2 linked regions of the Homo sapiens genome follow. The protein of the gene in region 1 purifies or fractionates together with the protein of each later gene. This does not show direct contact. Each region holds a gene or a part of one and is shown in the gene's direction. Other genes may lie near its edges.

Region 1 (2,819 bases):
AATTCTACACTCTTCTACTTTAATATGCAACCTCATTGCTCTTGAGGAAGTGATTATCCAATTGTCCTGCATACTCTCAATATTTCATTGGCAGTTCCTTACTTTTCTGTGAAGCAACCCTCCCTGGTGAGAAGCTAAGAGAGCAAGCTGTGTGAGCCCCGAGGTGAAAGGCATGCCTTCCTGCTCCCCCTCCTGATGATGTCCCTGCTCCTATTAGCCTACATCTCCCACTCCTGCCACTCCCTGTCTCCTGCATCCCTAATCCAATCTCCTCCACTCCCCAGCCCTTTCCTGGAACACAGTACAGAGCTGTGCACCCTGCCAACTGCACTGACAGAGACCAGCTGCACTGGGGCCCAGCCACCTTGGCTATAGCACCCCGCAGGGCTTCATGGCCCACCTTGTTGACACGGAAGAGTTGATGAGATGGGCTTCCTATGTGTTAAGCGTTTCCTAATCTTGACAAGATAGAGGCTCATCTTCAAATTTTCTAAAACTCACTGTGATAGAGATTTAGAAATACCATGTAACATATGATTTAATACCACTAAAGTGAAACATCTCTGAGGTCACGTGTTACATTGGCACAGATGCTAGAGTTGAAATGGGAGGAGTTCCCTTATCCTCCTCATAGGGCCTGCGACAAGGGTGTGGCTTGTTTCTTCCGTGCTGCTCAAACCCCTAGAGGGATCATGCAGACGCTTAAGTCGCTTAAGTCGTGGGGAGTGTTTTTGAGCTCTGACCCCACGGCAGCATCTAGGGTTGACTGTTTATGGCTTCTGAAGCCCCGGTGGGTGTGTGTTACGATGCGCTCTTTCAGTTTTGCTGTCTGCAGGCAGCCTGTGTTAATCAGCTCGATCAGACCCTCTGCCTTATTGCAAGAACAGAGGGCTTTCTGTATCCTGGATTCTTGCGTTAGTGTACTGGAAAAAACGGCTCACGCGTGGCCTTGGAGGATGGGTGCAAGGTTTATTGAGTGGTGGAAGTTGCTTTTAGCAAGATGGATGGGGAGCCAGAAGGAGGATGGAGTGGGAAGGTGGTCTTCTTCTGGAGTCAGGCTGCCCAGCCACCAGACTCTCCTCTGACCACCCCTGACTGAATTCCATGTCTTTCCACCATCGATGGTCTGCCAGCGTCTGCTGGTGTCTGGCAGTGTGCTCCTCTGTTCCTCTCAACATCCAGCCCGCTAGGGTCTCGGGTTTTTTATGGGCACAGGATGTGGGGTGCAGTGGGCCAAAAGGTAACTTTTGGGGTGTGAAAACAGAAATGCCTGTCCTCATTTAGGTCTGTGGGCACAGGCCCGAGGGTGGAGCCCTCACCAGGGACCCTGCCCTTCCCTACCCAACATTTCCCTGCCCACCTCCTGTATCAGAATGATACATCGTGGTTAATGCTATCATAATAAATCATTCTGAGAGAAGAGGAACACTTCTCAATTTTCTTGCATCAATTTAGTAGATACTCTACCAGTACAAGCTTTTAGGAATAACAATGCCTAAACTTTGGTGTTATGCTTTAAAAATGTTTCTCCCACTATCTCTATGTCACTTGACATTCCAGCCAAATTGAAGTTGAACAAATTGGGGAGTGAATGAATGAATTCTAATCCAACTAACTTTTCTTGTACATGTACTATGATTCAGGTACTATGCCAGGTGTTTTCACTGAATCCTTGCAATAACCCCACGTATCATTATCTAAATTTTACAGATGAAAAAATCAAATGACTTGCCTAACGCAACTTATGTAGCGAGTAAGTGGCAATCTGGGAGTCAAAAGAAAGTTGTGTGACTCCAAAGCTAGTGCGGTTTCCAATATACCACATTTCTTTATCTATATAAACAATCCTTCTTGGACTGACTATATGATTTACCAGTCCTCACAATGTTTTTACTTGATCCTGGAGAAAAATAATTTTGTGTAAAACAGCTCAATGCCTTTCACTGAAGTATTGAGAATTATGAACTTGAAGTCAGATGGCCACCATCCTCTATCACTTGCAGAATTATTCCTTCTGATCAAAGAGCTCTTGCGTTTTTTGTTTGTTTGTTGTGGCTTTTTTTTTTTTTTTAAGATCTCACTGTGTCACCTAAGCTGGACTGCAGTGGCACAGTCATGGATCACTGCAGCCTCAACCTCTCAGGCTCAAGTGATATTCCCACCTCAACCTCTCGAGTAGCTGGGAGTACAGGCATGCACCACCACACTCAAATAATTTTTTAAAAAATTTTTATAAAGATAGGGTTTTGCAAGATTTTGCCCAGGTTAGTCCTGAACTCCTGGCCTCAAGTGATCCTCCCACCTCAGACTCCCAAGGTGTTAGGATTGCAGGCATGAGCCACTGTGCCTACCCTCAAAGAGCTCTTCTAAAGGCAGACTTGAGCAATAATGCTGGCTTTTAGGGAGATGATTAGGTGAGCTGAAGGGGCAAATATGGATACAAATAATGAGATTATGTAAGCAAATAAGGGAAGTGAATGCCTGAGCAGGTAGAAAGTATACCTGCTTTTCACTGTTCTATATACACAGGTCCTGTGAAGTCATAGACTGGGTGAGTGAAGATGATCAGCTGTATCACATCACCTGTCCTATACTGAATGATGACAAACCCAAAGACTTGGTAGTACTCGTATCACGAAGAAAACCCCTCAAAGATGGGTGAGTATATGCAGTCCAAGTGTTCTATTAATATTTCATAGTATAGGATAGAAATTAAAAGTTGATGTGAAAATAATGAAGTCTGTGTAGATATTTCTGCTCTTGAATTATGTTTATTTGAATTATACCTAGATGAATCTTTAGCTATTATTTTAAAAATT
Region 2 (4,237 bases), on another chromosome or scaffold:
GAAACCAGTGTCCAAAACCAGATGCCACCCTGGGGAGGGGGCTTTGGGAGTTCCTGGGAGGCCATAACACCGTCTGGAAGGCTCCTCTCTCCCACATATTCACAAAGTTGCATGATAAGCCAGGCCCCTGCTGGTCTTGCAGCATCCACCTATGATGCAGAGTAAACAGTGCCACACGTCAAGCTGTCCCCAACCTTGCCCTCGGTTCCACTACCAAAAGAGGGAACACTGGGCTTGCCCCAGCAAGGTGTTATTTATGTCAGGCTAGGGCCACTGTGGCTCCCAGCTCTTACTGCTTTCTAGGTGCCCTTACAGACTTCCCCACTGCCCCCTGCATATGCCAGAGTGTGAACATCCCCTCCCTCTCCACAGCCCCCACAGTGGGGTTCGGGTGGGCAGGGAGGTGGTTTCATCCCTCTACATACAGCCCTTGGAGACCTACCTAGGCAATTTGTCACTCAGGCTTCAAGCTGCCAGCCGAGGAGGGGAGCTGAGAAGACTCTATAATGAGATCTTTGCACTGTAATTAAGTGCCAGGCTTTGTTTTACACCTATCTTTCCCGCCTTGCCCGATCCCACCGCCAAGCTCCTCCAGGCAGTGAGTGGGGAGTGTCAGCTGCTCTGTGATTACACCCCAAGTGGCAGGTGGCAGGGAGCTCCTCCGCCTGCAGTCTGCGCCCCACCCCCAGGCTTCCCCCACCACCAGTCTTAACTCAAGACAGTGCTATTTCTGTCCTTGAACTGGGTTTCACCCCAGAAAGCCACTCCACCGCTTTCTCATAAGGCTACCTCCTTTTAACCCTGTGGTTGCACGGCCTCTGGGGTGTCCATTTCTTTCTTTTGACACGTCCCTTTTCCTGAAAGTTTCAGCAAACCCCATAGGCAGAGGGAGTTAGAAAAAGGAAAAGAGAAGTTAGGGCAGGAGGAGCACTGTTCTTATAGGACAGGAAGGGTCTGTCTTCTCTCTTGGGTCCTCCACACAAAATCGGAGCTTCCAAACACCCCAGCTCCCAAACATATGCAGCAGATTCTGCTGACAGGAATGTGTCACTGTGATCTTCACATTTTAGCCTGAAGTTTAGCCTACCTGAAGAAGCACCGGAGTGGGAGTGGGAGAACATGGGATGGTGCTTCTCTTTGGCCTGGCTGTGCTTTTGGACACTTCAGGTCTTCGGCCTGGGTTTCCTCCTCCGTACGATGAGGAGAGGATGGGAGGGGGCAATGCTGGCATGTGTGATCTCGATAGACACTGTGGAAGTCTGCAGAGACCGGAGCATAACCTCTGCCTCCTCTCCCCGGGCCTAGCCTCTCACAGCCCTCAGAGAAAACCCTGAGCTGCGGCGTGGCCGAGACGGGGGCGTGGCCTGGCAGGTGGGCGGGCCCTTCCGTGGGCGGGGCCGCGAGGTTTTCAGGAGCCCGAGCGAGGGCGCCGCTTTTGCGTCCGGGAGGAGCCAACCGTGGCGCAGGCGGCGCGGGGAGGCGTCCCAGAGGTGAGCGCCCTGCAGCGGCAGGGGATGGGCCGGGGGCCCTAAGTCGTAGGCAGCGCGGGGCGGGGACGCGGCTGCCTGCGGAGGTCGGACTCCTCTCCGCCCTCCTCCCGGGCTGTCCGGGTCTATTTTCCAGTCTATGTCCAACTCGCGCCGCCTCACTAGGCGGCGCTCTCTGCCCCGCGGCACCCGCGAGACGTGGGGTCCCTCGGCCCAGGGACGGGGTGAGCGTGTCATGTGGGTGCCCTGTGCCCGGCAGGTTGGAGACGAAGAGACCTCGGCACAGACGAAGTCACTCACATCCTCGCTTTGAAACAGAGCGGGTCCTTCTTGTGCTGTCTCGCTGTCACTCTCGCCCCCACCCTGTGGAAGAGGCAGGTGGCTTGTCCCCAGTCACTTTCTTCCTTGGAAAAGGGAGACAGAGGGCCATCTCCAGCAGGGCCATGGAAATCCCAGAAAGTCACTGAGCTGCTCAACAAAAGGCCCTAAACACCCCACCCCACAGCACCAGGCAGTGCACACTGGCCAAGACTCCGTGGTAAATATTGCTGGCCTTTATGTTGAGAGGGGGAAAAAAAAGCCTGCCTGTGAAGATCATTGCCCAGTGGCCATGCTCCTGTGAAAACACAATTGGAAAGCCATTTCCTAAGGGGCGAGGGTGGGTCTGGGACCATGCTGTGGCTTGGGTGATTGGTGGTTGCAGGAGTGAGGGTGCTGCCCTGGGAAGGCGCTGAGGCCCTGTTGGGTGGGAATCGACGGCTGCGGCTTTCTCCCGGAGGAGGGAGAGCGGTGTTGTTACCTAGTGTTGGGAACACATCCGTCCAGCACCGTGAACTGCAAACAAGCAGAGTAACCCTAGTGTCCTTCAGATACTGTTGCTGAGCAGTCACCTAGTCAATGAGATGATCTGTTTGGACGGCAAGTGCATCTGTAATGCCGCCCTCTTGCTCAGTGCCTGGAAGAGGCATTGGTGACTCCCCGCTAATGCTAGGGGTAGCTACCGTGCAGGAGCAGTCAGGCTCTTGCAGGGCCAATGTGGTTTCATCAATTTTCTCCTGCATTTACCCAGCCCCTCCGAATTCTGAGAAGTGCGTCCAAGATCTCTTGGACTCCTTGACTCAGTTCACCCTTGTTCTTGTGGGCAGAAAACAATTCCCAGTGTGCCATGCACAGCCAGTCAGAAGGGAAGCCCTGGAGCAGGGCCCTGGGAGAAGTTCTGTGGGGCTGGATGCTAATTATTCAGTTACTGGATTGTGGGGAAATTCCAGGGGAGGTCCCAGAGGAGAGACCGTGCTAAAGCTAATTACTAAGCAGTACAAAAATAATCTCTCTCTCTCTCTTTCTCTCTCTCTCTCTCTCTCTCTCTCTCTCTCTCTATATATATATATATATATATATATATATATATATATATGTAATTTTTTTTTTGAGACAGTCTCACTCTGCCGCCCAGGCTGGACTGCAGTGACACAATCTCGGCTGACTGCAACCACTGCCTCCAGGGTTCAAGCGATTCTCTTGCCTCAGCCTCCCAAGTAGCTGGGATTACAGGTACCCACCACTACGCCTGTCTAATTTTTGTATTTTTAGTAGAAATGGGGTTTCACCATGTTGGTCGGGCTGATCTCAAACTCCTGACCTCAGGTGATCCGCCTGTCTTGGCCTCCCACAGTGCTGGCATTACAGGTGTGAGCCACTGTGCTGGGCCAAAAATAATCTAAATTTCAACAATCAGCATGACCATGCCTGTGCGTATGACCCTAATTATCAGTCTGACTGATTCTTCCTTCCAAAATGATGGCAGAGGATCACCTCTTTGGATATTTACAGCTCTGAGCAAAGCAAAAAGCATGTAGGTGCCATTGTCTGAATGCAAAACCAGCCATGCCAGGTTTTCGGTGTTGTTTCTGAGGAGGGAGCGCCTCTCTGGAGGACGGTGTTTCCAGAACAGTGCCTCCGTTGTTCATTCCCGTGCATCAGGAAGTTTGGCTCTGCTGAGTGTTGAAAGCAAAACTCTCCTGTTTATTTGTCTCTGTATACTAACAGACTTAAACAGCAGACAGCACTGGAATGTCCAGTTACTGCATCCAGATGTGTTTGTTTCACTCTTAACATTGTGGAAAAGAATGCAGAAGGCAGATCCAAAGCTTCAATCAGATTTCTGAAGCTTAAGTGATTCCCAGCCTTGGTCCCTTAATGTGAGAGCAACAGCGTATAGTGTCTTCCGCTCTCTGGGACAAACCCAAGTTTGAGGCATAGTCCCTGCTGTCCAAAAGCTCCTAGGTCTAAGTAGGAAGACAAAACCAGCACCTGTGAAACAATTAGAGCGCAATTAAGTGCGAAAGTATGTGGCAGCATCTGCTAGCTCAAAGAAGACAGCTAGTGCAGACTGACTGGGAAAGGAAGAGAGAGCTTCACAGAGCCAGCTGGTGTTCAGCTTGACTTAAGAATGACCATCAAGGGCTTGGCCAGGCCTAGGAAAGGAAGCATGAGGATATATGAAGCTCAGAATAATGAAAGGCACTTGCTGCCCAGAGCCAATTCAAATTCCTGCCTTCCGGGAATTCTGGCTGTGGGTCCTGCCACTCTCTTCCTCACCCAGCCATGATGCCCTTCTTATAGCATTCTAACCATGCCTTTTTTTTTTTTTTTGAGACAGAGTCTCACTCTGTCACCTAGGCTGGAGTGCATTTGTGTGATCTTGGCTCACTGCAACCTCTGCCTCCTGGGTTTAAGTAATTCTCCTGCCT

What was found.
Region 2: the proteins of ACOT12 (region 1) and TLR5 purify together in Homo sapiens (affinity purification with mass spectrometry; one large-scale study listed by BioGRID and IntAct). This does not show direct contact.

What each region holds. Positions count from the first base shown.
Region 1 is NC_000005.10:81,332,316-81,335,134, reverse strand, and holds part of ACOT12 (acetyl-coenzyme A thioesterase), read left to right. Parts: intron 1-2,529; coding exon 2,530-2,658; intron 2,659-2,819. UniProt on the Homo sapiens protein: Catalyzes the hydrolysis of acyl-CoAs into free fatty acids and coenzyme A (CoASH), regulating their respective intracellular levels. Preferentially hydrolyzes acetyl-CoA.
Region 2 is NC_000001.11:223,140,449-223,144,685, reverse strand, and holds the start of TLR5 (toll-like receptor 5 precursor), read left to right. Parts: upstream 1-1,437; 5' UTR 1,438-1,490; exon of another isoform or gene 1,491-2,025; intron 2,026-2,922; 5' UTR 2,923-3,038; intron 3,039-4,237. UniProt on the Homo sapiens protein: Pattern recognition receptor (PRR) located on the cell surface that participates in the activation of innate immunity and inflammatory response.